Homo sapiens: one gene and its partners. The protein of the gene in region 2 interacts with the protein of the main gene of each other region in a pairwise test. Each region holds a gene or a part of one and is shown on either strand. Other genes may lie near its edges. The genes, in order: MLX, TNNT2 and PPP2R5A.

The links.
Region 1: the proteins of TNNT2 (region 2) and MLX interact in binary tests that used the Homo sapiens proteins (3 or more experiments, as listed by UniProt).
Region 3: the proteins of TNNT2 (region 2) and PPP2R5A interact in binary tests that used the Homo sapiens proteins (3 or more experiments, as listed by UniProt).

What each region holds. Positions count from the first base shown.
Region 1 is NC_000017.11:42,562,826-42,573,056, forward strand, and holds the start of MLX (max-like protein X), read left to right. Parts: upstream 1-4,274; 5' UTR 4,275-4,299; coding exon 4,300-4,341; coding exon of another isoform or gene 4,342-4,503; intron 4,504-4,793; coding exon 4,794-4,830; intron 4,831-5,644; coding exon 5,645-5,734; intron 5,735-6,011; coding exon 6,012-6,118; intron 6,119-6,378; coding exon 6,379-6,478; intron 6,479-6,681; coding exon 6,682-6,781; intron 6,782-7,156; coding exon 7,157-7,358; intron 7,359-8,721; coding exon 8,722-8,778; 3' UTR 8,779-10,142; coding exon of another isoform or gene 10,143-10,199; 3' UTR 10,200-10,231. Other genes in the region: COASY (bifunctional coenzyme A synthase), read left to right, coding at 1-497, 1,136-1,350, 1,621-1,752, 1,884-2,073, 2,158-2,222, 2,402-2,486, 2,646-2,743, 2,834-2,980 and 1 more; PSMC3IP (homologous-pairing protein 2 homolog), read right to left, coding at 10,143-10,199. UniProt on the Homo sapiens protein: Transcription regulator. Forms a sequence-specific DNA-binding protein complex with MAD1, MAD4, MNT, WBSCR14 and MLXIP which recognizes the core sequence 5'-CACGTG-3'. The TCFL4-MAD1, TCFL4-MAD4, TCFL4-WBSCR14 complexes are transcriptional repressors.
Region 2 is NC_000001.11:201,373,371-201,383,486, forward strand, and holds the start of TNNT2 (troponin T, cardiac muscle), read right to left. Parts: upstream 4,311-10,116; 5' UTR 4,253-4,310; intron 32-4,252; exon of another isoform or gene 1-31. Other genes in the region: LAD1 (ladinin-1), read right to left, coding at 8,518-8,523, 8,882-8,956, 9,283-9,369, 9,704-9,841, 9,947-10,019. UniProt on the Homo sapiens protein: Troponin T is the tropomyosin-binding subunit of troponin, the thin filament regulatory complex which confers calcium-sensitivity to striated muscle actomyosin ATPase activity.
Region 3 is NC_000001.11:212,342,577-212,352,533, forward strand, and holds part of PPP2R5A (serine/threonine-protein phosphatase 2A 56 kDa regulatory subunit alpha isoform), read left to right. Parts: intron 1-3,226; coding exon 3,227-3,357; intron 3,358-4,770; coding exon 4,771-4,830; intron 4,831-5,812; coding exon 5,813-5,921; intron 5,922-6,612; coding exon 6,613-6,666; intron 6,667-9,957. UniProt on the Homo sapiens protein: The B regulatory subunit might modulate substrate selectivity and catalytic activity, and might also direct the localization of the catalytic enzyme to a particular subcellular compartment.

The DNA of each region.
Region 1 (10,231 bases), on a different chromosome or scaffold from region 2:
CACGCACCTCTATGCTGGCGCCGACGTCCACAGGCACTTGGACGTCAGAATCCTACTGACCAATATCCGAACCAAGAGCACCTTTCTCCCTCCCCTGCCCACCTCAGTCCAGAATCTCGCCCACCCGCCAGAAGTCGTGTTGACAGATTTCCAGACCCTGGATGGAAGCCAGTACAACCCGGTCAAACAGCAGCTAGTGCGTTACGCCACCAGCTGTTACAGCTGTTGTCCGCGACTGGCCTCGGTGCTGCTATACTCCGATTATGGGATAGGAGAAGTGCCCGTGGAGCCCCTGGATGTCCCCTTACCCTCCACGATCAGGCCAGCTTCCCCCGTGGCCGGGTCTCCAAAGCAGCCGGTGCGTGGCTACTACCGTGGCGCTGTCGGTGGCACGTTTGACCGCCTGCACAACGCCCACAAGGTGTTGCTCAGTGTCGCGTGCATCCTGGCCCAGGAGCAGCTTGTGGTGGGAGTAGCAGACAAAGATCTGTTGAAGAGTGAGTAAGAGGGACCCTGGACTAGGGTGGAGGATCCCCAAATCTCCCCACCCCCGACCCTTATGCCGAGATCAAGGAAGGGTAGGGCCATTCATTACTTCCCACCCTTCCCAAATGTCACAGTGGTTGACACTCAATTGGTGCTAAGGCCATTTTGTCAAATGAACAGCTTTCTCAGCATGTGGTCCAGTCACCACTCAATCAGAATACCCCAAATGTGAAGCAAAGGGATCTGCATTTTAGCAAGTTTTCCAGGTGATACACCCTAATGAGACACTGGGAATGAATGGGTGAGTGAGCTGCAGGTAGCAGTGCCACAGACAGGAGGAGGAAACTCAAGCATGGCATGGGTCTTGGAATTTTCCATCTGCCTCTGATGCCCTCTGGCACTGCTCGTTCTCTGGAGTGGTTTCCTGGTGGCTTATTCTCTGGACACATGCCAGCCCTTGGAGTGACTATTGTGCTTGCCTGTTTCTTCACCTTCATGCTCCCCTCACCATCACCATAGGCCTTACCAGTTGAACCCTTTCTGCCACCCCCTCTGGGGATACTGTACTTAGGGACACTTTTTCCCAAACTGGCCCATACTCTCCTCCCCAATAAAAAGATCTCACTGTTCTTCTGGGCTCCTTCCCCAGGCAAGTTGCTCCCTGAGCTGCTCCAACCTTATACAGAACGTGTGGAACATCTGAGTGAATTCCTGGTGGACATCAAGCCCTCCTTGACTTTTGATGTCATCCCCCTGCTGGACCCCTATGGGCCCGCTGGCTCTGACCCCTCCCTGGAGTTCCTGGTGGTCAGCGAGGAGACCTATCGTGGGGGGATGGCCATCAACCGCTTCCGCCTTGAGAATGTAACCCCTGAGGGAGACTGGCAGAGGGAGTGGATGGGGGACGGGGAAGGCCATTTTGAGGGGGCTGTTGGAAGTACCATGGCCCCAGAGGAGAGAAGTGGGGGCTCAGGGTGGTGGGAAGAAGCAAGGAGGAACTGGTTCTCAGTTTGCCCGCTGAGTCGGAGGAGGAGGAGCCTGGGTAGGAAGGGGAGGATGGGGGGGCAGGTTGGATGTCAGGGTCTTCCTCTCACTCCCTCCTTCCCTCTTTTTACCCTTTCCTCTTTACCCCAGGACCTGGAGGAACTTGCTTTGTACCAGATCCAGCTGCTGAAGGACCTCAGACATACAGAGAATGAAGAGGACAAAGTCAGCTCCTCCAGCTTCCGCCAGCGAATGTTGGGGAACCTGCTTCGGCCTCCATATGTAAGCTCCTCTCCCTCCTTCCCTCCTGCTTGGTGTCCTGGCAATGCTGGAGAGTAGAAGCTGAGGGGCTCAGCCCCAGGCATGAGGCTGAGGGCCCCAGTAACTGTGGGTTCCCTTTCACCTATCCCCAGGAAAGGCCAGAGCTCCCCACATGTCTCTATGTAATTGGGCTGACTGGCATCAGTGGCTCTGGGAAGAGCTCAATAGCTCAGCGACTGAAGGGCCTGGGGGCGTTTGTCATTGACAGTGACCACCTGGGTCATCGGGCCTATGCCCCAGGTGGCCCTGCCTACCAGCCTGTGGTGGAGGCCTTTGGAACAGGTAATAACTGGGGAAGGCTGAAAGTGGCCTGGAGTGAGGAGCTAGCCAGGCCTCTGTGCTCAGTTGTCTGTCTGTGTTGTCCAGATATTCTCCATAAAGATGGCATCATCAACAGGAAGGTCCTAGGCAGCCGGGTGTTTGGGAATAAGGTAAACAATAACTTCCTAAGGGCTCCTAAGCCGCTACTAGACCCAGGGGTCAGGGTCCAGTGGACCTCTCTGGTCTGGCCCAGAATGCCATTTCCATTGATCTGTTCCCAACACCACCTTGCTCGGGCTGGCTGCCTCTTCTAGAGAAGGTAACCTCTGCCCTCTGTTCCCCTCCCCAGAAGCAGCTGAAGATACTCACGGACATTATGTGGCCAATTATCGCAAAGCTGGCCCGAGAGGAGATGGATCGGGCTGTGGCTGAGGGTGAGTGGGAGGGAGGATGGCAACAGCTAAGGGGACAGTTAAGCTGTTTCTTCCCCTGGGAGCTTCCCTGCCCAACGTGGGACTGTCTGTTCACCCTGGGACTGTGTTCTGCCTGGGAGAACGTCGGCACTGCTGGCGGTGACTGGGGTCTCCCCACAGGAAAGCGTGTGTGTGTGATTGATGCCGCTGTGTTGCTTGAAGCCGGCTGGCAGAACCTGGTCCATGAGGTGTGGACTGCTGTCATCCCAGAGACTGAGGTATCTCGCCCCACCCCCCACACCATCCCTACTGCAGATCCTATCCTGTGAGCTGGAATTCTTCCTGACAAATGTCTCGTCTGTGCTCAGGCTGTAAGACGCATTGTGGAGAGGGATGGCCTCAGTGAAGCCGCGGCTCAAAGCCGGCTGCAGAGCCAGATGAGCGGGCAGCAGCTTGTGGAACAGAGCCACGTGGTGCTCAGCACCTTGTGGGAGCCGCATATCACCCAACGCCAGGTTGGTGCCCAGGGCAAGGCCGGGTTGTGGGGAAGGAGTCTCCAGTGGGTACTGCCTGACCCTGCCCTCTCTTCCTCCCAACATCCTGGCCTGTCTGAAGGTGGAGAAAGCCTGGGCCCTCTTGCAGAAGCGCATTCCCAAGACTCATCAGGCCCTCGACTGAAAAGTTCTCAGTGGGGCCAGACTGGCTCCTGGAGCTGACAAGCGACCCCGTGGTGAGGAGAAATGGGGGCCTTGATGCTCACCCTGGTTCAGGCCCAGAGGTCCAAGCTATACTGTGCAGGACATGGCCAGGCCTGGTGGACACAGGAAGCCTACCCAACACGCTGGTATTTGGCCAACACTGAGGATGTGGTTCATGGGGGAGCAGTCCCCTCCCCACTCTTGCCCATGGGTGACTCTTACCCACAGCTGACTAGGGCCAGCGCAAATACTGGAACCTGTAACAGAATTAAAGGTGAATGTTCTGAGATGTTGCTTGTATGGTGTCTGCTTCCTGTTCCAATGCCCCTAAGTATCTTTGGGATCCTTAAGCCACAAGTGCAGGGCCCAGGCCTGAGCTGGAAGCCTGGGCAATGCAGTGGTTAAGAGAATGGCCTTTGAGGCTAGCCAGAGGCGAGCTTTGGCCCTCCCACTGACCAGCTGTGTTCTTCTGAGTAAGGTGTAGACTTTCTAGGTACTGCCGTGTTTTATTGTTTTTGTTTTGTTTTTAATATGAGAGGCCGCATAACCTAGCTAGCAGGTTCTTTGCAAGGGTTCATTCCACATGCATCCTGCCAGACACTGGGCTGGGTGTTGGAAGATCAGCCTTCCGCGCGCCAGGCGGGGCCTCTGCCCTCACAGAGCTTGCAGCCTGGTGGGGTCGGACGATGTGGCTGGGGGCTTCTCTGCCCGGTTCCTGACACACCGGCCAGCAGTGCAGGTCCGGTGAGCGCGGGGAGGCCGCCCTCAGGGTAACGTGGGGAGCCGGCCGGCCGGACAGTGCGCGTGCACACACTATCTGCGGCGGTGTGCTGACAAGCCAATTGAGGGGACTCCATCTTACAAAACGCGCTTCATGTCGCCGCCATTCCACTGCCTAACCCGGGGAGGGCAGGCACGGCGGGGAGCAGTCTCGAAGGAGGCTGGCGCCAGGCCAAGCGCCGGGCCTTGACGGCTGGAACCGTGGAGTAAAGTCTTTGGGCTGCGCATGCGCGATGCTTCGCCCTGCCCCACCTCTCGGTCGCGGATTGGCGGGCGCGGGTCACGTGGGCACGCCACCCGCTTCCTCGCCGCAGGGGGCCCGCCCGCTGGCCCGTTTCCGGTCCGGTGGGTACAAGATGACGGAGCCGGGCGCCTCTCCCGAGGACCCTTGGGTCAAGGCAAGCCCCGTGGGCGCGCACGCCGGCGAGGGGAGGGCGGGTCGGGCTCGTGCACGTAGGGGGGCCGGAAGACGAGGGGCTTCCCTCCTGTCCCCAAAGTCCCCCACGCTCTCCGTGCCCCGGGGCTGCAGAGAAGACAGCTCTCACCCCGCGTGTGCCAAGGTGGGGAGACAAACGAGGCGTGTGCGCGCGAGTCGGGGGAACGGGGCACTGGGGTGGAGTAGGGGCGGAAGGGATCATACACAGGGGAGGCACTCGCACGCCCTAGCCTGTGCCAGTCTCGGGGGACTCATTAAGCTGCCCGCGCACCCCGGGCTGTGTGTGTGCAAGCGCGCAGGGTGACAGAGGCGCCTTCCCGGAATGGGGGGCGCGCTGTGCGTGCCTGCAGTGGAAGGGGCGCCTCCCCCTAGGGGCGGAGGTCTGACGGGCCCTTCCCGTGCTCTGTGCCGCAGGTGGAGTATGCCTACAGCGACAACAGCCTGGACCCCGGTGAGTAGCTGCCCCATCTTAAGCTCTAGAGGGACACTCCCGCCCAGGCTCTCTAGATTCTTGTGGCGTTGCCAACCACGCCTGAGCACAGTCCACTCTCCCTGAGCAGAGTTCCTGGCTTGAGACAGCAGGAGCTGAAGGACAAGGGCAGAAAACAACTGAGGGTGACACCTAGTTCCCTCTGCTCTGGAACAGGGAAGTGGTGGAACTGATCACTCACCACTCAGTGGAGCAGCTGATCACTCACACCCTCATCACGTCCACATGCCCGTTTGTGAGCCAGGGGGGTATCATGCAGGCCTATGGAGCAGTGTAGACACTAGGGAGCAGAGCACTGCAGCGTGGTCTGGCAGGAAGTGGGGGGCCCAGTATGGTTGGCTTTGGGTTGAAGGGAAGAGGTCAGCATTTAAGAAAGCCATTGTGTGGCCGGGCGCGGTGGCTCACCCCTGTAATCCCAGCACTTTGGGAGGCCGAGGCAGGCGGATCACGAGGTCAGGAGACCGAGACCATCCTGGCTAACACGGTGAAACCCCGTCTCCACTAAAAAATACAAAAAAATTAGCCGGGCGTGGTGGCGGGCGCCTGTAGTCCCAGCTACTCGGGAGGCTGAGGCAGGAGAATGGCGTGAACCTGGGAGGCGGAGCTTGCAGTGAGCCGAGATCGCGCCACTGCACTCTAGCCTGGGCGACTGAGCGAGACTCTGTCTAAAAAAAAAATAAATAAATAAAAGAAAGCCATTGTGTCCTACAGGTGTCTGAGGGTCTGGCAATGTTCCCCACCCCACCCCTTAGTGATTGGGGCCTCTCTTTTCCAGGGCTTTTTGTAGAAAGCACCCGCAAGGGGAGTGTAGTGTCCAGAGCTAATAGCATCGGTTCCACCAGTGCCTCTTCTGTCCCCAACACAGGTAGGCAGTAACATCCCCCCCGACCTCGGGGGGCTCAGATATGTCATAATTGTAGTACCTTTCCTAGACAGGGAAGCCCCAGCCATCCACACAGGGGTGCTGGAGCCAAAGTATCAGACACAAGGTCTCACCATCTTTCACCTCATCTGGAACATTAGGTGGTTCTGTCCATCTGCCTTCTCTGGACACCAGGTTCTTCCCAGCTGGGGAAAGGTGGGCTAGCTGGACCCCACTGGGCCCCAAGATGACCTTTCCCTGCCCCCATCTCTGAGCGTAGATGATGAGGACAGTGATTACCACCAGGAGGCCTACAAGGAGTCCTACAAAGACCGGCGGCGGCGCGCACACACTCAGGCTGAGCAGAAGAGGAGGGACGCCATCAAGGTGAACAGGGAGGCCTGTGCCTCAGCCAGTGCGGGAGGGCCCTGCATAGTTTAGCTTCCCTGTGCCCTGACCCACTCAGACAGTCCCAGGCACCCTAGGGGGTGGGCAGGTAGTATAGTCCCAGGCACAAACACCTCCCTTGCAGCCTTCCCACCCCATTGAGTTTGTGAGCATAGAACTTGGTGTCATGGAGGAACTTTGTGCCATTTTGCTTTAATCTCTCAGGGTTAAAGAACCCATTTCCCCTGCTGTTTCCACAGAGAGGCTATGATGACCTTCAGACCATCGTCCCCACTTGCCAGCAGCAGGACTTCTCCATTGGCTCCCAAAAGCTCAGCAAAGCCATCGTTCTACAAAAGAGTATGGCTAGGGAAAGCACTGGAGGGGATGGAGCCAAGCGGGGCTGTGAAGAGGCCAGTGCCTCCTACCCACCCATGGCTCGGCCTTGGTGTGGTGATTGCCATGGGATAGTTGGGGTCTGGGGTAAGGGGAACAAAGTCAGCCTTATCTTCTTGGTTGAGAATACTTCTGTACCTGTCCTTTTTTTCTTGCCCCCACCCTAGCCATTGACTACATTCAGTTTTTGCACAAGGAGAAGAAAAAGCAGGAGGAGGAGGTGTCCACGTTACGCAAGGATGTCACCGCCCTAAAGATCATGAAAGTGTAAGAGGGGTGCTGAATGGGGGGAACCAGAACTTCTGAGGCAACTTCATTGCACACCCTCCCTTGTTCAAAGGCCACATCAGTTACTGCTGTACAGATAATACTCTTAGTTCCTGAGCTAGCCAGTAGGACTGTGTATCCCCAACTGTCCTTACACATGGCAGACACTCAGGAAATGCCTGTTGGATTAATGTAAGGAAGGTTGGAGAGAGAGGGCCACCTTTCCTGACCTGGAAGCAGTATCTCCCTGATACTGAACCCCACCCAGAAGCTCTCTGGGGCTGCCATTCCTGGGAGTACACAGGATAGTCCCGTCATTCTTCTTGGGTGGGCGGAGCTGCTGCAGCACCTCAGCCCTGGCCTGCATGCTTTTAGGAACTATGAGCAGATTGTGAAGGCACACCAGGACAACCCCCATGAAGGGGAGGACCAGGTCTCTGACCAGGTCAAGTTCAACGTGTTTCAAGGCATCATGGATTCCCTGTTCCAGTCCTTCAATGCCTCCATCTCAGTGGCCAGCTTCCAGGAGCTGTCAGCGTGTGTCTTCAGCTGGATCGAGGAGCACTGTAAGCCTCAGGTATGGGGCAACAATAGGCACAGGGTCTGCGGTTTTCTCTACCATCAAGCAAAGTGGCCCAAGCCATCAGCTGTTGAGAAAAGCGTGGCAGCTGCTTTTAGATCTTAAGGGCGTTTCTACAGCTTTGAGGGCCCTGGTATTTTCCCTTTTCTTTGCTGTCTAACCCACATCTTCATGTTACGGTTTCATTCGGCAAGTGTGACGTGAGCTCAATGTGAAGTCCAGCTCTTGGCTTTTGTCTAGCCCATGTTATCGCTGCCCCTGTATGGAAGCCCCAGGCATCTGCAGCAGAATTGGAAACGCAAATTCTGGGACCCTACCTTTAGGCCCCCTAAAGTAGTTGCCCCAAGAGCTTTTTAAAAATTTATTTATAATGGAGATGTGCTAATGGTATTGCACTAAGTCTTCTAATTGAAGTCTGGTTGCTTTTTCTGAGGTTTTAAACTTGTGTCTGAGATTTCTTGTTTGTTTCTCAACATTTTTTTTTTTGAGACGGGAGTCTCGTTCTGTCGCCCAGGCTGGAGTGCAGTGGCACAATCTCGGCTCACTGCAACCTCCGCCTCCCGGGTTCACGCCATTCTCCTGCCTCAGCCTCCCGAGTAGCTGGGACTACAGGCGTGTGCCACCATACCTGGCCAATTTTTTGTATTTTTTAGTAAGACGGGGTTTCACCGTGTTAGCCAGGATGGTCTCGATCTCCTGACCTTGTGATCCACCCGCCTCGGCCTCCCAAAGTGCTGGGATTACAGGCATGAGCCACTGTGCCTGGCCTCGTTTCCCAACATTTTTATTGTGAAACACATTAAACATATTGCGATGTTGAGAGGAGTTCACAGTGAACACTCGTATACCCGCTCCCTAAATTTTACCGAAACATTTTACTATATTTCCATCTCTCCATCTTGCTTCAGGAGCACCTCAAATTAAACTGCAGACATCAGTACTTCCTGGGGGCTTTTTTTTTTTTTTTTTGAGACGGAGTCTCACTCTGTCACCAAGGCTGGAGTGCAGTGGTGTGATGTCAGCTCACTGCAACTTCCACCTCCTGGGTTCAGGCGATTCTCATACCTCAGCCTCCTGTGTAGCTGGGATTACAGGCATGTGCCACCACACCTAATTTTTGTATTTTTAGTAGAGACGGGGTTTCACTATGTTGGCCAGGCTGGTCTTGAAATTCAGGTGATCCACCCGCCTTGGCCTCCCGAAGTGCTGGGATTATAGGCGTGAGCCACCACACCTGGCCCCCGGGGGGCTATTTTTAAAGCACTTTTCTAAAGTACATGGCTGATCTAGGCAGGCATCTTGGAAACTACTCTGCGTTGACTTGGGCATTGTCTATTTCTTCCTCTGCTGCCCTCGCCAGACCCTGCGGGAGATTGTGATTGGCGTCCTGCACCAATTGAAAAACCAGCTTTACTGACCGGTTCTTGGAAACCTGGAGAACAGCCAACAAGAGGCCCTTGAATCTCTACGTGGCCACTGAACTGCTGGGCCCGGGAGACTGGACTACAACACCTCACACTGGTCAGCTGGTTTCTACTTGGTGTTTGGTTTTTCCCAGCCCCATTTTATCTTCAGCGGAGCCGCGGTGTTTGTTTTGTGAAAGCTTCTGATTAATTTATTATATTGACGATAAAACTCAAACCTACCCAGCCTTCCCCCCACTCCATGGAAGTCCTTGGGATGGGCGTCTGCTCTGGACACCCCAAAGAGCTCCTGCCCTCTCAGCCCTTTATTCAAGCCTCAGATTTCTGCTCATGATCTACATAGATTTGGAAACTGTTTTCCTCTGTTTTGGTCTCTTGGGCAACATTTTTGGCCCAAGTTTGGGCAACATTTGGCCCAAGTTTGGGCATTTTGGCAGTAGCTGTATGGGAGAAAAAGAGTAAGAGGAAATATTCCCACAGCCATGAAGGGTGAAAGGGCACCTTGTGCCTAGACTAGGGCTGCCTGGTCAGTCCCAGGTGAGGCCAAGGGCTTTCTGGCCATCTCAGGGAGGGGCCACCAGGTTCCTCCCCTCACCCCATATTCCATCACCTTCCTCCTCTGCTCTGGGTGGTAAGGGAAGCCCTCCCGGTTCCCACAGGCTATGATGCTGCATGGCAGAGGCAGGTATAACACAGCACTACATATTGGAAATTTTTTATTTTTCTAAATACCAATGCAGTTTTGCTACGGTTACAATTTTGAAATATTAACTGAGCCTCAAAATCACCCTTTCTGTCAAGCATATCTTGGCCTCTCCCATGTCTCAGTGTTGCCTGCATTTCTCCCAGGACTTGGGGGTGGGGTGAAAAGCGTACAAAAGATACTTAAAAGGGCTCCTGGGGTACACAAGCCCAGCAGGTCCTGAGTGAAGCCGTGGGCCCTCCAAATGCTCGTTTTATAGCAACCTCTCTCTACCCTAGTTCTCCAAATTCACTTCTGCCTTCCTCAGGTTTGATATCTGGCAGGTTTGACTATCCAGAGGAAATTAAATATTTTTATATAAAATTAAATTATAATAAATATTGCCAAATGCTTTCCTTTAGCATTGTTCCAAGTCTAAATGTTAACCTCAAGCTACTGCAATTTAGACAATGAAATGGGCTGGGTCTACCCCCAGCCACCAGCCCTCATCCTCTCTACCCAGTGCTCTGGTTTATGCTTGTCTCCTGACTGCTCTGCTTAAAGGTGAAAGTAGCAGGAACAACAACAAAAGCCAACCAAAAACAAGGTAGCCAGTGCAAGACATCTCACTCTTCTGACATCCTGCAGTCCCCACCAGTCCTGACCGTGGGCCCCTCAGGGGTCTGGGAGTGTGACGTTGTAATCTTCATCCGTCTCTATCCCAACTTCCTCCTGTGAGACAGGGAGACAAGTGAATGAGATGT
Region 2 (10,116 bases):
ATCTAGTTCCACCCCTCATGAGCTGTGTGACCTGCAACAAAAAGCCTGTTTTCTCCCCTGCTGGGGGAGATAGTGACACCCACATGGCAGCAAGGCCACCTGCTGATGTCCACTTCGTTCCTTGCCCCTGAACAGGCAATACTGCCTGGGATGCTGCATTTCCATTTGTGACACTCAAGACAATGTCTGCAGTTTCTCAACCTTTCCATCCACTCTGCCCACCCCCACTCCACAGGATCTGTTCAGCACTGTACAAATCTTCACTGCACAAAGCCTCACTGCAGCCTCAACCTTCTGGGCTCAAGCGATTCTCCCACCTCAGCCTCCTGAGTTGCTGGGACTATAGTTGTGCACCACCATGCCCGACTAATTTTTGTATTTTTAGTAAAGCTGGGATTTTGCCACATTGCCCAGGCTGTTTCGAACTCCCAGGCTCAAGGGATCCTCCTGCCTCAGCCTCTCGAAGTGCTGAGATTACAGGCGTGAGCCACCACACCCATTCCATGTGTGCTGGACAAAAGTGAGACCTGGACAAAAGGTCTTTGGGCACCCCAAGAGACTGGCCTGGACAAATGAGTGAGAACTTGTCTCTAAATAAATAAATCAAAGCACACAGCGGGGATCCTTGTGGTTTGGGATCTTTTCAGTATGTAGACTGTGGTGATGGATACGTGAACCTCCACAGGTTAAAGTTGTTTAGAGTTTCACATACACATGGTGCAATTGTGGGCAAATCTGAATAAGATCATAGATTGATTGTATTGATGTCCAATCTTGGTTTTGATATAGTACTAATTTTGCAAATGTTGCCCTCGGGAGAAACTAGGCACCGTGTGTAAACGCTCGTTATTAAAGACAACTGTGTACTAGTCTTTAATTATGTCAATGAAAATTCCGATTAAAAAATGTTCCCCCAGGGAACTCATTCTGAGATCATCTTCTCACTGCACTGGGAACAGATAATCTAGATTCAGATCCTCTTCCATTAGCTTGCCGAGGGTGTTTAGGCGAGTCTTTTTAACATCTCCAAACCTCAGTCCTTTCTCTGTCTCATGGAGATAAAGTGTACACATCCTGGCTACTCAGGGTCTTTACGAGGCTCCAGTTGACATTAACAAAAGGGGAAGGCATTAGGCAACATCAGGTGTTACAATGAGCATGTAATCACAGGGAGGGGGCAGAGAGCAAGCACTTGAGTGTGAGACTAATCTCGTTTTGAATGCTGGCTCCAGCATGCGTTTGCCTGCGACCTTGGCAAGGTCACTTAACCTCCCCACATCTCAGCTCTCTTTGCTGTGAAATTACTGCTCTTCTTGGGTAGGTGTGAGGAACAGAGGTAGTGTGAAGTGTAGGCATTCAGCTAATAACTACTATGACCCAACCCTCCGGGGCCATGACAGTGCACTGCTCCAGGGACACAATCACGTTGTTTGAAACGTGAACAGCAGCCTCTGTTATAGTGCAATATGCCAGCTCCACAGCCTTCCTGATGTTGGCTTCCAAGGGAGAGAATGGACAGGGTGATGTGAGAGTGAGGCTAAAGTGAGGCGGGAGAAGAATCCAAATGATGCTCAGGACCACCCTCCAATGCTCCTCCCCTGCTGCCCACCTCCTGCCCCACTCACGCGTGCCAGTGCTGCAGCACCAATTTCAGACCCAAGCCTCAGGATGAGGACAGAGGCACATAGACAGTCCTGCTCACTCCCTCATCACCTCTCCCTGCACATCCCCCCCATAGTGGCTGAGACCAATCCCAGGCACTCATCTGTGGACATCCAGCAAGAGCCAGGGCTCTGGTTGGGTGGGGTGATGTCCAGAGGCTGAGCCATTCCAAGGGAGCTGCCACTGCCCAGCTGCCCCTCCAGGTGGAGGCTTCCCCAGACTCAGCACCCACTGCAGCCCTGGATTGATTGTCTTCAGACCCTGTTCCCATTATGTCCAGTTCTGCTGGGTTAGAAACAAGCATGGCTGCAGCAGAGTGGTCCTTCCGCTGCTCCCTCTGCTGGAGCAGGGTGAGGACAGTGAGGGAGGAGCCTTGTTTACAAGGAGCTCTGAACCGCAGCTCTGAGCCACTTTTTTGCCCCAACCCCCAGGGTGGGGTGAGTGGGTGAGAAGAAGAGACATCAAATGTGCGAGGTGCTATAATGCGGGATCAAGCCTCATTCTGCTGAAAAAAAGACTCAAACCCCAGAGGTTCTCCAAATAGGTCTTAGGATGAGAGTGGCCAAAGAGAATAGCCTTCCTAACCCTAGGATGGGTGGGGCTGACAATTGTTACCCAAAGCCCCAGGGGAGCGGCCAGAACTAGTGACTTGAGAACTTGAGGAGCTCCTACCTGAGCCCCAGGAGAAGCTTGTCCCTCAGTGGGAGGGAGAAAATTCTCAGAGGAACCGTGCATGGCCAGCCTGGGCGCATAGCTTCTAGCTTTCTCTCTCCTCTCCTACTCTGCCCTTCCACCAGTTCAGAGCCACTGGGCATGGTGCTGGGGCCTCACAGGAGGACAGAGCAGCTTGGACTCCTCTCCCTGTTCCTGGGGGCACCATCCAGCTCCCAAAAATAGCATGCAGACATGCAGGATGGAGGAGGGCTTTCAGCCAGCCCAGAGGACACCACCATGCCAGTGGCTCAAAGGCAGGACCTGATGCAGGGGAAAGAGGTGGGCTGAGACTGGGGGCTGCAGAATGGGAGAGAGTCAAGAACCTGGCAGGGCAAGGAACCAGAATGTCCTGAAACACCTGTGTCCTCACACCCAAGTCCCACCCACTTCCACAGGCAGCTTTCTAGCCTAATGCATTCATAGCCAACACGTGTTGGAAGCCTAACACGTTCACAGGGTCACCTTTCTTGGGGAGTAAAGCAAAGACAATAGAAGGCATAAGGCATACTGACCTTGGGGTCAAAAAATCTGGGCTTAAAACCCAGATTTTGCTGTGTGGCCTTATTTAAGTCACCTAGCCTCTCTGACTTCAGTTAACCAACTACAAAGCAGGAGAGCCTTGAGTTCTGTCCCTGTAGAAACAGTCTCCGAGTTTCTGAGAAACACAGGCCCCACCCCTCAGTCCTTGTCCCCAGCACTCGAATGGGATTTTCCTAAGCCAACAGCTGTTAGCCCACCAGGAGAGCGGGGGTAAGGGGATGGGGAGAGGGCAGGAAGAGTGGAAGTGGGGGTCAGAAATAGGAGGCAGCCAGCAACCTGATCCTCTCAGATTCCACTTTTGCAGAGAGAAGGAAGATTCGCCCTCTAAGACATGGGTCAGAAAAGGAATTTGGGAGGGCAGGTAGCTTCCCGGCTACAGCAGGCCAGGAATGTGCTCTGAAATTCCTTACACACCAGGCAACCCCCTCCCTGAATAGTCCTCAGCCTGCCCAGGAGAAACTAGAAACCAAGGGAATCTTTCTCTACCACTCCTGGGCACAGAGCAAGGCTTGTCCCAAGATGGGGTGTTGGGGTGGGATGGGACAAGGGTTACACTTACGGGGGCCCAGGTTAAACCCTTTAATGCCAACCAGCTGGGCTCACACCCAAGGACAGGTTCTCCCAGTGGGGCCTTTCCCCATCTGCCCCCCAAGTGCAGCTCAGCTCAGGGTCTGGGAGCTCAGCTCAGCTCTGGGAGGGAATGGCACTGAGTCAGCGGCATCAAATGGAATTCCCGCGTTGGCCTGGAGAGGCGCTGCAGAGGACCCTGCACATCTGGTCGTTCTCAGTACTTCCAGGACAGTTTCTGAGTTCCTAGCCTTGAGAATATGACCAGGAGACTCACTTGACTGACAGGGCTGCAGTCTCGCTCTGCTCCCTGGGACTCAAGAAGGACCTGACTGGAAAGGTATAGGTGACCCTCGGCCTGGAACAAGCAATTTAGGGGAGTCTCTGTTGGTTAGAGCCTCATTGTATTTAGAGCAGGCAGAGGCCTAGCAAATATTTAGCCCACTCTACAGATGAGAAAACTGAGGCCTGGGGAGGGAAAGTGACTCATCCAAGAGTTTAAACTCTACATCTTTAGTGGCAGGTCCAGGACTCCAACCCTAGTCTCCAATGGCTACCATGGGATTCTCTCTTTCTCTCTGCTCTATTGTACCAATCTTGGAGCCCAGACCTGGCAACCTGTCCTCTGAAGTGTGGCCTCCACCAGGAGGGGCCATGGACTTCTGCGGACACAGGCAGACTCTGGGTAAATATGCCAGGGCCCAAGACCCTCACATCTCCCCGTCCATTCTCTGCTCTCCTCTTCCCCAGAGCCCTGCCCGAGCCTTACCTCAGAACAGCAGCTGCCGACAGATCCTGGAGGCGTCTGCTCAGTCTCAGCGGGGACTGGGTGAGGCAGAGGATGGAGAGGGCTTTAAGCAGGCATGTGGGCTGGGGCCTGGTGAGCCAGCCCTGCGGAGGGAGGAATGTGCGACAGGGGACGGGTGGGGCAGGGGGATGGCGGTGGGGGTGGGGGGTGTTGGCTGCTATTTTGGCAGGTGCCAGGGACAAGGCTACAGGAACATGTACCCCACGCCATATAAGCCCATGTGGTCCTCCAGCTGCTCAGATAAGCTATTTAAAACCAGAGCAGATATGCAGGGAACAGTCATGCAACATAAACCAGCTGTCCCTCTTGAGAATCCTGATAAAGCAGAGGCCAGCAACCCAGGCCTGGGAGGGCCAGCTGGGAGCAGGGTTGGGGGGCAGAAGGCAACCTCCAAGACACTCCATAAGTCTCAGCACCAGAATCTTGGAAGGCAGAGGGCAAGAGTTATGTGCTGCTCCACTTGAACTGATGCTGGGGGTAAAGACATCTTCCAGGCTACTGGCTCCTAATGGACTGAGCAGCCTTAGGCAGGTTGCCGGCTCTGCCAGCCCCAGTGAGGACATCTGCAAGGTGGGTCTTCTCCATGACCCCCAAAGCCATGTGGCACACCCTCCTCACAGGGAATGGACTGAAACTGCTACAGGAGGCCAGATACAAGGTAGAACTTCCAGTCAAGAACCTTGAACAGGCGCTCGTTGTGTGAGAGGGGTGATGCGGACTGTCAAAGGTCATCCCCTAACGGCTTTAAAATCAAGCAGTGCGGGGCTATGATCTGCTAAACCTACTAGATTGCAGATGCATAGGTCAGGCCTAGGGGTCTTGCTTGCTTGCCTGTGTCTGACCATGCACATGCACTTGTATGTTCAAGGCTGGCCCATTGCAGGGTTTGGTAGATTATGAAAATGAAAGAGACAGGAGGAAAGCAAGCCAGTAAGCAGCTGAGCTGACTCTCCCCTCCATCTCTTTCTCCGAATCTTCACAGCCTAGGTCCTGCTTGGCTCTGAAGCAGGAATGGTCCTCCTCTGGAGCAGGCCCTCCCCTCCTCCATGACCCCCCCTGGCACTTAAAGATCTTGCCCATTCATGATCCACACTCCTCTGTTTCTCCGTGGGCAAAGAAAGCAATCTCGCTATTCTCTGCCCCCTTCTCCCATCACCCAATCATGTGTCCCGCCTTCCCAGTCCTCAAACTCTTCTCTCAATCCCTCTGCCTTGGGAGCTACTATGCTGCCTCCACCACTAATGTCCTTGAAAGGGTCCTCTGCGCAGGGGACTGCCATTTGCTCCACACCCATGCTGCTGTCAGACTCTTGTCCCATCACTCAGCTGACTCCATCCCCTCCATAGTTCCCTGTGGCCTCTGAGTCCAGTGGCCTTGATTGCCCTGCCACGTGGGCCTCCACACTGCCAGCACATCTGTGGCAGGGCAAGCTGAAGCCAACCGCCCGCTGGCCAGCATTGTGGGACTGAGGACCACCACAGGGAAGCAGGGGCACTTTGTAGAGAGACAGGCAGATGGAGGGGACAGATTCCCGAGGGATAGTGAGGAAGGAGTCAGGCTGTCAAGAAAGTGGGGGGAGCCCCATCATCTCTCTCTCCCATTCTAGCCCACGAAGCAGGGCCCAGCCTTGCCTTGGGTCCTGGCCTGGAGTAACGTAGAATTCGGAATTACTTTTCCCAAACCCTTTTTTAACTTGAGGGTGGGTTACTGTTCCTTGTAAGCCCAATAACCTTTCAAACAGACCACGGTTTATTTGCATGGATGCCTAGAAGAGGGATCTGGGCACCTAGGTCACTACTGAGCCCCATGGGAAAAGCCCAGTAGATCCTTGGTGTCACAGGCCACACGTGTATGGCTTCGAATTGTTCTAAGGCAGGAGCTTCGTTCAGAGCGCTGTGAGACAGCCTCTCAGATAAGGAAATCCAGCCCCCATGCAGCAGCCACTCCTGGGCATAGTAGGGTTACTCTTAGCCCATTTTTTTTTTATATCCCTGTCCTTTCAAAGGGATGTAAAGAGAAAACAAAGCCAGAGTGGAATGGGAGGCTTATGCTGAAACAGTGCATGTAAATTTGAGGATCCACAATAGGACGGGCCACTTGTGGGGCACAGGGCCCCTGTGGCAAGACAGCAGGAGGGTGCAGCCCGGAGTGGTGTGTGGGAGCCCTGTTCTGTCTCCAGAAGGTGCCCAATGTCACCCATCCAGAGGCCTCCCCACCCGCCTGGACACCCAGTCGCTACCACTCATCTATCCCCAGCTGAGGTCATCTTGGGCACACCCTGGTCTCCTTGTTTACTGGCTGCGTCCCCAGTAGGAACGAGGGCAGGGCCCTCACGTGCTGGATTCACAGGGGAGGGGGCTGTGCTGTAGCACCCCGACATTTCCCCTAGCAGTCAGCCCTCACTGGGCACCCCAGGGGAGGGGGGTGCAGGCATGAAGGGCCCTGCTGAGGCTGCAGCTGCAGGAACAGGCCCCTCAGTGTCTTCCTAGGCTCTTACTCCACGGTCAGGCCCTGCCAGGTGAAGGCCTCCAGGAGCCTCTCCTCTGTGTGGGGACAGTTTTGTTTACTGGAAAAGTTCACCTATCATGGCATGAACATATGAAAGTTCTCTGAGGTCATCTGCTTGAAGTTCAGAGAAGGAAAATGGCTCAGGGTCACACCTGAGGTCTGGGCAGAGCCAGAGCTGTTTAGATGTCCCGAGGCTTAGGCAGGACTCAATCCGTTCCTCGGCCCTGCCCCAGCCTTGTCCTCCAACTCTCGGCTATGAAGTTGGAACACTCACAAAGCCCCAGCACTAGCAGTGGGTGGGAGGTGCTCGGGGCAGGGACCCCAGGTCCCGATATCCCTCACTCAGGCACAGGAGACTCACTGACCAGAGGTGGGTCAGCCTGGGGCACTGGGACCTGAGCACGGATGGCACTTTGAGGGCCTGTCCCCTGGGGCACAGATCTGAGGAGCCCTCACCCAGAGTCACAGAGTAGGGCTAGGGCTCATCCCCCACACACTTGGGGAACTGGACTGGTGATACCCCCTTAGGAGCCGTGTTAAGGGTCGTGTTCCAAAAAGACCTGGAGCTTCCCCAGGCATGCAAAGGGGGAATGGGCAGGGGGCTCTGCACCTGGCCACATCCCCAGCTGATTCTGGGTAAAACTAGGGCAGTCAATCAAGATGGAGAGTTCTAATGATTTAAATTTTTGAAAAGTTGTAAACCACAGCTTTAAGGGGTTAACAGGGCACCAGGCTGATGTTCCTAGCTTGGTTGGTTCTAGATTCTCTGATGGTTCACCATGCTCCAAGCTCATAGGAGCCATGAGGTCCAGAGCATGGGGGTGGGGGTTGGAGGGGGCTTGTGGGGAAGGAGGGTAGGCCTGGCCCTGTATGTGGCAGTTCCCAGTCACCAAGCTAGGACTGCTGAGTGGCAAGCCACCACCTTAATGTGAGAAGAGGGGGGATGAGGAAAATGATGATCCTCCTCACACACTTCAGGTGACCTCTGCTAGAAAGCAAGGCCTCCAGAGAGGAATTCGCTTCTAAGGTCTCATCAGTCTCTTACACCTGAGAGTAAATGAGTTTATCAGATCCTTCCTGAGAACAGGTTTTTCAGAGAAAGGGTAAGTGGTTGCACACAAAAAGGCACTTAGCTCCTGGCCATGGCAGCCGGCCAGGGAAGGGAGGGGAGAACCAAGCAGGGAGACGGGGCACAGGGAAGACGCACGGCAGCTCCTTCTCCCCTGGCCAGAGCGGGCCTCAGTGGCTGGGAGCAGGCCCCAGGGACAAAGATGGGTGGGTCCAGGCCTCAGAGAAGGGGGACATCATAGACAAAGAGGCACTTGCTGGGAGCCGATGAGACAGGTGACTCTGGAGTTCTTGAGGGGCGCCGTGCCCTGACTGTGGATGTGAGCAGGAAGGAGCAGAGGTCTCTGGGCAGGACATAGGCCCCATAGTGCTGATGTGCACTTGTGCTGTGACCTGGGCAGAGACTGGGTCCCAGCATCTGTTGTGCCTGCCGCAGGGTGAGAAAGTCCCAGCCCCAAGAGGCTGGGCTGGGAAGGAGCTGGCTGAGTCTTGCAAATATTCCTGACCCCAGGGACCCTGGCCAAACAGATCCACAGGCAAAAAGGGAACAGGGACAATGAGAGGAAAGGGTGCTGCTGTGAGAGGCAGGGGCCTGGCATGAGGGAGGTCCCTTGAGACGAAGACTTGCAGGTCTGTCTTGGCGGGGCTTGTCACACCTGTGGGGCAAAGAGCTGTTAGCACAAGTCAATGGGGTGTCAGGGATGGAAGGGGAAGGGGGCCACTGGATAGGAAGGCATCCCTTTGCCCAAGCCCCACACCCACAAGGAGTCAGAGCCCTGTAATCTGCCAGCTGAAGAGGGAGGGGCTCTGCAGAGCTGCAGGCAGCACAACCAGGTGAGGGCTCAACCTTGTTCTCACGGTTGGCTCAGACCAATCTGCATGAGCAGGGATGGGGGCGTTCTGGGTGGACTGCGCGATTGCAGGCCAATTAGTGTGTGCACACGGGGACGATGGGGTCTCCCACAGTACACCGTGGCCCTCCGCCGTAGGGCCAGGCTCCTCCCCACCATTCACCTCAGCGTCCAGCGAGGAGTCAGATTTCTGTCCCCACTGAGTCCTCTCGGTTGCAGATGATGCTTTCTGTGCCTCCTGATTGAGGGTATCAGGGTGGAGACCAGAGACTAAGACCAGGCTCCAAAGGGCTCGGGATACCCCAGGCCCAGCTCCCAGCCCAGGATGTCCTTTCTCTTCCCAAAAGAGAAAAGGAACCCAGACCCACCCCTCCTCTCTGCCAGAGTCTGACCCACACACCCATCTATTCCCGACTGCCTCCACTCCTGAAATGACTCCTCCTCTCCCGAAATGACTCCTCCTCTCCCGAAATGACTCCTCCTCTCCCGACTGTCCCTCCTCTGTCCCCAGTCATCCCACCACAAAGGCTCCACAGTAAGAGACATCAGGGAGGGTGAGGATACCTGGGGGTCCTGATCTCCAGATTCCTGGGTCCTGCTGATCCACAGGTTGAGCCTTGATGTCACAACCCCTGAGAGCCTCAAGTTCTCCTAAAAAGAGAACTTTCCATCTCAGGGTTTAGGGCCCTTGGCAGCAGCGAGGCATGTTCAGAGGCCCTGGAATGGGATAGGACTCTCCCTCACTCCCCTATGCATCCAGCACATGCCACATATACCTGGGACAGCCCCCTCCCCTTCCCCCAGGGAGCTGTGTGCCCAGCTAAGGAGATGGGCTCAGGAACGTGAATGGGAACTCAAATGGAGGTTCTGCCAACATTAATTGACACATGAAAACAGTTTTCTAGCATTGCCACAGCCAAGATTTGGGTTTTGGAGACGTCAGGGCTAATCACCCTAAGGACCCTGTGGGGCCTGAGCCCCTCACCTTCCGGCTGGAGGCTGGTTCTGCTCGGCTCTGGCCCGCCAGTTCCTTCTCAAAGAGGTGGCGCTTGCTGGCTACACCCACAGGAGCCACGAATAACTCAGTGCAAGGCAGACCCCGAGACTTGACAGATTCTGATCTCTGGGAACCAAGAACACCAACAGCTGACCCATGCTGGGGAGGGGAAAGGGCCATGCCCACTACTCATCCTGCACCCTCCGCCCCTCAGGAGAAGCCCCCACCCACCCGTATGGCCGTGTGGTATCTCTCCAGCTTCTCTCCCAACTTCACTGTGTTGTCTGGGAGCTTCATGCTGGCACTGCAGGATGGAAGATGGAACAGGCGAGCCAAGTGAGACACCCAGGGAGACCAGGCCTGCCCCCAGGGCCTGAGGAGCAGCCCCATCACACGTTCTC
Region 3 (9,957 bases), about 11 Mb from region 2:
ATGACCATTCAATCCATGGGCAAATCTTTGTTTTACATTTGTAAGTCTTTGAACTTGACATATATTTTAAGCATTGGGACTTTGAAATGACGGGGGAAAAAAGGAGTAGAATCATTGTGAGGAATTTGGGCTTTAGGCTCCTTTCCTAAGTATCAATTACCTTTTCCTTTTTCTTTCCTCTTTGCACCTAAGCCCCACCACCCAATTCCTAAACCACAGATAAAGTGGAATCATTAAGAACGTAAGGAGGTAGAATTAATTGTGATGCCTTCTTTTTTTTTTATAAACTGCTTATTAGCTGTTATTTTTGGAACCTACATATTCACAATTTCTAAGAATATATTCATTTTCAAAACCTTTTCAAAAATTTAAAGGCCTCTTTTTTTTTTGAGAGGGAGTCTTGTTCTGCTGCCCAGACTGGAGCACAGTGGTGCAACCTCAGCTCACTTCATCCTCCGCCTCCTGGGTTCAAGCGATTCTCCTGCCTCAGCCTCCCAAGTAGCTGGGACTACAGGCACACGCCACCATGCCCGGCTGATTTTTTTTTTCTATTTCTAGTAGAGACGGGGTTTCACCACATTGGCCAGGCTGGTCTTGAACTCCTGGCCTCAAGGGATCCTCCCACCTCAGCCTCCTAAAGAGCTAGGATTACAGGTGTGAGCCACTGCACTGGCCAAAGGCCCCTTTTTAACTATATGGAATTGGCTGGCCCCAAAGAAAATTGTGAAGTAGACCAAACCTTTCTAGGCATTTCTAGGCCTGAGTATGCAGGCCTCTTTAGGAATTTGATGCTGAGGCCAGGATTAAAATCATTGCAAGGACCTTTCCTACCCTTCAGACCGCTTTGTATGTGCCCTATGATAAAAATTCTACTAATGTGAGTTTGGTATATTTAGAGCTGATCTTTGGTCATTCATAACTACCCTTGACCTCATATAAAGTATTCTGACCTGTTGCTGTGAAGGATTGATAAATGAAGAACATTGTCAGCCTAAAATATTTCCTTCAACCATTGAAGTAGCTCTTCATAAACTATAAAGAAATATTAGGTGTGTATTAACAGTAACATATACATTTTAATCATGACTAAAAATTACATTAAATGGAGTTATGTTATTTTGGTAATTGCAAATGAATGCCTGTTTATTTCCTTGTGCAGCTCTTGTGTGGGATACATTAGGGAGCTCTAGTAATGCCATATGAAATTGTATTTAATACAGTAACAGGTTGAGGGGAACAATTGCCTTAGTGCTTTGTTAGTCTAGAGCTTGAGGTATTTAAGCTGCTGTATTATTTTGTGGTGTGAGGGGAGCAAAAAGAAAACTGGTGGGGCAGGATCTGTTTTCTACCTTCTACTTTAAATGCTTGAATTATCTGAGAAGCTAGGGCCCAGTAATTGCTTTTAGCAGTTTATATGGCTGTTTTGCTCTTGTTGCCCAGGCTGGAGTGCAGTGGCTGGATCTTGGCTCACTGCAACCTCGGCCTCCCAGGTTCAAGCGATTCTCCTGGATCAGCCTCCCAAGTAGCTGGGACTGCAAATGTGCCGACATGCCTGGCTAATTTTTGTTTGTACTTTTAGTAGAGACAGGGTTTTACTGTGTTGGCCAGGCCGGTATCAAATCCCTGACCTCAAGTGATCCGCCTGCCTTGGCCTCCCAAAGTGCTGGGATTACAGTTGAGAGCCACTTTGCCCGGCTGCCATTTTTAATTAGAATAATTTGATGTGAACTTATTAGATATATTAACAAAAATTCTCATACTCCGTAGATATTTTTTGCTGGAGTCTCATGAGGGCCTTAACAGCCTAGCAAACAAAGAATGGAAACTATAAGTATGGCAGTTGTTTTGGGAGATATAAATATGATTTAAGTCATCCACTCTGGTTTCAGATGCATGTGTTAGCAATTGTATATAATTCAAAACAAAATGGAATAAGAACTTCTGATGAGGTTCAGAGCTTGCTATCTTTATTGTAATTATAAACACGAAAGTTCAGAACATAAAATTCCTTGACAGCTTTACAGATACTTGTACTCTAGAGAGAGTATTTTATATTTTTCTAAGAAAATCCAATGTTTAAAATACAGTGTTTTTTTTGACAGAAGAAATTAAGTTTCTTTACCATTTTAAATGGAAATTTGAGATTTTGACTTTAACTTTTTCTAAAGTCTCTTCTCTCAGGTTTTGCTGAAAAGTTGTGCAGAATATAGGAGTACACTGATTGGGCCAATTGAGGTATAGGAGAGTGCTGACTGTGGAACTGGTTTAAAATTTTTCAGCTATTTGCTAAGCTGAAAAATCTATGGGCTGGGCATAGTGGCTCACGCCTATAATCCTGGCACTTTGGGACACCGAGGAGGGTGGATCGCTTGAACTCAGGAGTTTGAGACCAGCCTGGGCAACATGGTGAAACCCCGTCTCTACCAAAAAATATATAAATTAGCTGGGTGTGGTGGCATGTGCCTGTAGTCCCAGCTAGTTGGGAGGCTGAGGCAGGAGGATCTTCTGACCCCAGGAGGTCGAGGCTGCAGTGAGTTGTGATTGCATCACTACCCTCCAGTCTAGGCTACAGAGCAAGACTGTCTTAAAAAAAAAAAAAAAAAAATTTGGCCTCATCTTTTAGTCCAGTGTTATTTTATATATGATTTCTACTCTATTAGTATGTATCTGCCAATATTTTATTCTAATAACTGAATGTTAATTTTTCAAATGTCTGCATGGTAACTGTCTTGAATTTATTGTAAATTCACAAAAAGAAGTCTTAGTATATGTACATCTTTCTAGTAAACTAGAAATATACATTTACACATGGATCTTTTTAAGACTATTTGATGACTTGCAATCTAAAAACTTAAACGATTTTCTATGTAGTTTTGACGATCAAAAAGCATTAAAAATCCCAAATTTTAACACTCCAAAATTGTGAGCCTCTTTAGTATTCAAGAGTAGGATTGAATTTTAAAATCAGTGGGAAGGTAAAGAAAAATCCACTTTTTGAAATATTTATATTTATTGTAAATGTCATATTTTGAAGTGAAATAAGTGAGAAGAAATATTTCCTAAGCTTTTCCTCACCTTCATTACTTAGCAAGAATAAAGTCAGTGTGGTAAGGAAGAACTCTAAAAAATTTTTAAAAGATGTCATGGATAATCTTTAAGATCAAAATTAGAATAAAGCTTTAGCTCGATTATTTTTTAAAAGTAATTTCTCAGGTTTCTTTTAAAGCTCCTGGAGCTTTTTGATAGTGAAGATCCCAGAGAACGTGACTTCCTGAAGACTGTTCTGCACCGAATTTATGGGAAATTTCTTGGATTAAGAGCATTCATCAGAAAACAAATTAACAACATTTTCCTCAGGTAAATTAATCATTTATTGTATATTGCACCTTTTCCTCCTACATATCTTCTTGTATTCAAGTTCTTTTATTTTTATTTGTTTTTTTGAGACAGGGTCTCACTCTGTCATCCAGGCTGGAGTGCAGTGGTGAGAACATAGCTCATTGTAGCCCCCATCTCCCAGACTCAAGCAATCTTCCTCTCTCAGCCTGCCAAGTAGTGAGACTACAGGTGTGCACCACCACGCCTGGGTAATTTTTTTGACTTTTAGTAGAGACAAGGTCTATGTACTGTATGTACGTAGTATATATATGTAACATATATATGTAACATAGTATATATGTGTAACATATATATGTAACGTAGTATATATGTAACATACTATGTATGTTGCCCAGGCTGGTCTTGAACTCCTGAACTCAAGCAGTCCTCTTATATGGGGCCTATCATTTGCTTGTAGTCATCCCTCAGTATCTGGGGAGGATTGATTCCAGGGCCCCTGCTAATAGCAGAATCCAAAGTCCCTTATATAAAATGGCACAGTATTTGCATATAACGTCCACACATCCTCCTGTATACTTTATTTCTAGATTACTTACAATACTTAATACAGTGTGAATGCTGTGCAAATAGATGTTATTCTATATTTTAAATTTGTATTTATTTTTCAAAAATATTTTTGATCTGTAGTTGGTTGAATGCACAGATAATGAAACCTGCGGATACAGGGCCAAGTGTACTTTATAAATATTAATCTGTTAAGTAGTTGCTTCAGATCAGGAGATTTCATAACAACACCCACATTCAAGGTTTGGTTTGTTTAATTAATTGAAGATCTGGCAAAATTTGGTTACTATTCCCACATTGCAACAATTAGAGATGAGTAATATCTGCCTCCTCTAGAGTGAATATCTTTCTCCAGTTCTCTGTCATCACTTCCTAAGCCCATTTCAAATATCTGCCCTATTATATTTATGTCTCCCTGCTTTAAAGGCAGCCCTAATCTTGGAAAGCTATGCAGCCTATATAGTTAGAGGTGTAAAGAAATTCTGATTAAAAATGGCTTTATTACATATGGGTCTTTTTCTCTTGGATTTCCCTATAATTAGAGGTTTCTTATTTTAAAAAGTATTTCTTTGAGGAAACTTATCTTTCTTATTAATTATTAAGTTGAATATTCCAGGTGAAATGACAATCTGTTATCTTCACATATGGCGAGTTTTGGCAAAGGCATATGTAGTTCAGTAGGAAACATCTTCTTTTTTAAGATTGATATGAATTAACTGTTTGGGGCAAAACTGCTTATAAGACCCAAAACATGCTTGTGTGTTTCTAATAGCTGTCCTTTGGATTGATTTCTTCACCCTCCTGCCTGTTTCTCTTAGTTTTCTGAAGTTTGATTTTGATTACATCTTGTCTTTATTTTAAATTCAGGTTTATATATGAAACAGAACATTTCAATGGTGTTGCTGAACTTCTTGAAATATTAGGAAGGTAGGTCAGGTTTTTTTGTTCTTTTTAAGAATTAAGTAAGTGAATGTTTTATGTATTAAAATCTTAGCTGGGGTTGGAGAAATTATGTCATATTTTAGAGTTTAAATGTAGAACACATAGTTTCTCAACTGAAGTCTTTTTTTTTTTTTTGAGACGGAGTTTCGCTCTTGTTGCCCAGGCTGGAGTGCAATGGCGCGTTCTCGGCTCACTGCAACCTCTGCCTCCCGGGTTCAAGAGATTCCCCAGCCTCAGCCTCCTGAGTAGCTGGGATTACAGGTGCCTGCCACCACACCCAACGAATTTTTTAATTTTTATTTTTAGTAGCGATGGGGTTTCACCGTGTTGGCCAGGCTGGTCTTGAACTCCTGACCTCAGGCAATCCACCCCCTTCGGCCTCCCACAGTGCTGGGATTACAGGCGTGAGCCACCATGCCCAGCCTCAGCTGAATTCTTATTACCTTTTGCCATAACACTTTGCCTTCCTTATTCACTACGTATTAGTATTAAGAGAATTTTAGACCCTTCTGTTACTATTTAGACAATGATTTTAGTTTCCTTTATTAATAGTAGAAAATGATTGTGGAGAGAACTACTTCTTTCACGTTATCCAACAAAGTAAGAAAAATTACCCATTTACTTCAGAAAAATATTGAACATTCTAACAATATTGTGGTACTGACTCTCCTGGAGCTTTGGGGGCAAAAATAAAAGCAACAATGCATAAAGTGACAGGTTTGATAGAAAATGAAGATAGAAATTACTTGGGAATTAATTGACAGTCCTAATTTTCTTTTGGAATCATCAAATGACTTAGAGGAACAGACTTCATAGTAATAGTCTTCCTAAAGTAGTTTGAAGATGAGCAGTCATACAACACCAGGATTGAAGCATAGCACTGTTCCTTATGTACTCATGGATATGACAGCTTTTAGAAACAAAGTAGTAACTACTTAACCCTTCCCCTGCCTTTTTTTCCCTCCAGTATTATCAATGGCTTTGCATTGCCACTGAAAGCAGAACATAAACAATTTCTAATGAAGGTTCTTATTCCTATGCATACTGCAAAAGGATTAGCTTTGTTTCATGCTCAGGTAAGTTTCAGAAACATTTCAGATGAAATGAATATTATTTCAAAGGCCAATATAAAGGCAGAGAAATTGAGAAATACTGAGATGACAGTTTTAAGTATAATTAAGCAATTTGCTTACAAAATTACCCAAAGCAAATTTTTCTTATTTTAAAGTATTTAGTTGTTAAGTAAGACCAATTATTTAATTTCTATATCTACACTTACAGTTTAAGATACACACTTTCCTCATATTATAGTCCAGGTCTTGACCTAATTATGTGACTTTGAATAAATCCCACATATCTACAGAATGTTTCTTCCAGCTGCAATAACCTAGACCTAGTTAGAGAGATTTTGGTCTCTTCTATTAATATTTAGAGAATAATATATCAGCATAGGTGTACATGTAGAAACATGCTGAAAAACTAAATTGTTAGCTCTAGTCTTATTTCAGTTAACTTTATAGTCAGAAATTACTACTAAAAATGTTTTTTAAACTTGAAGTTACTTTCAAGGCTAAAAAGTTACACAATTGTGAGTATAGTTTCACGATTGAGGTATTTCACAATTTCATTCACAGTTGTGAGTATATTTTTATATATTGGAATAATTTATCAAAATGAGGTAGTCTAAAAAATATTGGCTAAATATAAAAATCCTACATTATTAAATGTTATCTCACTAATATTTATAAACTGTCCCTTACCTTTTAGCTAGCATATTGTGTTGTACAGTTCCTGGAGAAAGATACAACACTAACAGAGCCAGTAAGTGTTCTATTTATTTTCATGTTTTTGGTCTGCATTAATAGCATTTCATTGTAGCTTTCGTTTTATAGCCTTTATAGTTATTAAGTAGAATAATGTACGTTAAGCTAAAATCATTTAGAAGAAGAAATGTGAGATTAATCTACATTAAAAGAAGGGGTTAGGAGGGGAGAGTTCTCGTGAGTTATGTCTTGAATAACCGAAATATAGACTACTATTAATATGTAGTAGTTAAGATGTACGATGATAGGATCAGATGACCACAGTGAAATTTTATATGCATACTGTCTTCACCAATAATCTTTTAAATCTTCATTCACCTTTTGGAATTAAAGCATACTTCGAGGGTCCCAAAACTACTACTCCCTTGAATTTTGTTTTGTTTTTAATAATAGAATTTTTGCCACTCATTAACAATAAACCACTTGATAGGGATAGAAAACATTTCCTTGCTTTTGGTGATTAAGATATAAGATGTAATCTTGGAATAAAAGTAGTTTATGAACCAGCAAGGCAACTTAGGCTTTGAATTCTACTGTTATTTGCCTCTAGAATGAAAATTCAGGAGAGAGTGAAAACATAATTAGTTATGAAAATTTACTGAGGATTCAAGAAAAACAAAAGATGAAGTAGGGTGAAACAGAAAAGTATAAAAGCATAGAAAACATTTTAACCTTGGTGAAGTAAGTATTTTGAGAGAATGCTTTCTAGGCATGTTCAGTCTAAATATTTACCTAGTATTAGGTTGGTACAAAAGTGATTGCGGCTTTTGCCATTACTTTTAATGGCAAAAACCACAATCACTTTAGCAGCAACCTAATAAATATTTAGTAAATAGCAAAGGGTTTGAAAAACTAAAATATATATGTATTTTTACTATATTATGAACCTTCTCAGGCTATCCGTAGGGATGCTTGAAAAAATCATATACTTAGTATTCTCCCTTTCACTTGAACTTTGTGTAATGGAACAAAAGACATTTTTCCACTCCTTAATTTTTATTAGTTTTTTGACTTTTAGATTTACAGTCTTTTCTAGAAACAGCTGTAAACAGTTTTTGAAGACAATTCAGGAGAATTAGAAACCATATATTTGTACATGAAACCACATAAACCTCTGAAGTTGATTCCCAGGTGTGCAGTGGCTCACAACTGTAATCCCAGCACTTTGGGAGGCTGAGGCAGGCAGATAACTTGAGGCCAGGAGTTTGAGACCAGCCTGGCCAACATGGTGAAACCCTGTCTCTAGTTAAAATACAAAAATTAGCTGGGCATGGTGGCACAGGCCTGTGGTCCCAGCTACTCAGATGGCAAGGGCACAAGAATTGCTTGAATCCAGGAGGCGTAGGTTGCAGTGATCTGAGCTCATACCAGTGCACTCCAGCCTGGGCAACAGAGTGAGACTCTGTCTTCAAAAAAAAAAAGAAAAAAGTAAAACCTTAATACAAATCTATGATAACTCCCATTAGAATTAAGAAAAAGAAAACCCATAATAACACATATTGAAAAGTCATGGTTCATGCTTGGTAAATAGTATACAAATAAAATTTTATTTAATTAATTTGGGGTGGATAAGGAAGACAGGTGATTTATTTTTAAAGAATGGAAGATAGAGGCTGGGCATGGTGGTTCATGCCTGTAATCCCAGCACTTTGGGAGGCCGAGGCAGGCGGATCACCTCAGGTCAGGAGTTCAAGATCAGCCTGATCAACATGGTGAAACCCCATTTCTACTTAAAAAAAAAAAAAAAAAATTAGCTGGGCATGGTGGCGTGTGCCTGTAATCTCAGCTACTAGGGAGGCCGAGGCACAAGAATCACTTGAACCCTGGAGGCGGAGGTTACAGTGAGCCGAGATGACACAAAAAAAAAAACAAAAAAACAAAAAACCTTGACGATTAGGGAGAGGGATGATGGCCAGTTATTCAGCTTTTATCTGGTTTGGCTGAGTTGGGTTAATGAAAATAGGAGCAGGATGAGGAGAGAGAGTAAGATAAATACCCAGGTTAAGAAAGGAAAATATTTTCCAACTCATAAAGATCTCTCGATATAGAGATCTTGCAATTTCTAACATAGGCCATTCCAGCACCAAAATTACGGCCATATTACTTGGGTTTAAGCCTTAATACTAATTTTCTGGAAAGCAGGCATTCCTATCAAAGCTTTCTACAAATTATAAGTAGCTCAGAGCTTTTGTTAGTTTATTACTCAAGCCTGTAATCCCAGCACTTTGGGAGGCTGAGGCAGGCAGATCACCTGAGATCAGGAGTTCAAGACCAGCCTGGCCAACATGATGAAACCCCATCCCTACTAAAAATACAAAAATTAGCCGGGCGTGATGGCGGGCACCTGTAATCCCAGCTACTTGGGAGACTGAGGCAGAATTGCTTGAGGCAGGAGAATGGCTTGAACCCAGGAGGGCAGAGGTTGCAGTGAGCCGAGATCACAGCACTGCACTCCAGCCTGGGCAACAGAGTGAGACTCCGTCTAAAAAGAAAAAAGTGCAGAGTGGAAGAATTAACTAAATATTCATTACAGCTAAGTTTCCATGTAAAGAGGAAAAAAATGAAGAGTCGGCATGACTTTCAAAACTTTTATTTTTTTGGCAGTGTAAACCTTTCCTTCCACTCAAAGCTGCATTTTTATAAAACAAGCAAAACAAAACAAAACACCGTTCTTATTCCAAGAAAATCTAACTTGAGCCCCAAAATAATTTTTTTATTTTTCTTTTTTATTTTATTTTATATTTTATTTTATTATTTTATTTTTATTTTATTTTATATTTTATTTATTTTTTTGAGACAGAGACTCACTCTGTTGCCCAGGCTGGAGTGCAGTCAGTGGCACCATCTCGGCTCACTGCAACCTCCACCTCCTGGGTTCACGCAATTCTTGTTCCTTAGCCTCCTGAGTAGCTGAGATAACAGGCGCCCGATACCACGCCCGGCTAGGTTTTTTTTTGTATTTTTAGTAGAGATGGAGTTTCATCATGTTGCCCAGGCTGGTCTCAAACTCCTAAGATCAGGCAGTGTGCCTTCCTTGGCCTTCCAAAGTGCTAGGATTACAGTTGTAAGCCACTGCACCTGGCCCACATTGACATCTTTTTGGGGGCCACTAGTCAACCCAGTGTTCGTTATTCAATACTGCCCGACATTGAAATTTGTGTATGATGAGGGTAAGGAACTACATTTGGGTTTGTTTGTTTGTGTTTTGGGTTTTTTTTTTTTTCAGACAGGATCTCACCACATCACCCAGGATGGAGTGCAGTAGTACGATTGTGGCTGACGGCAGCCC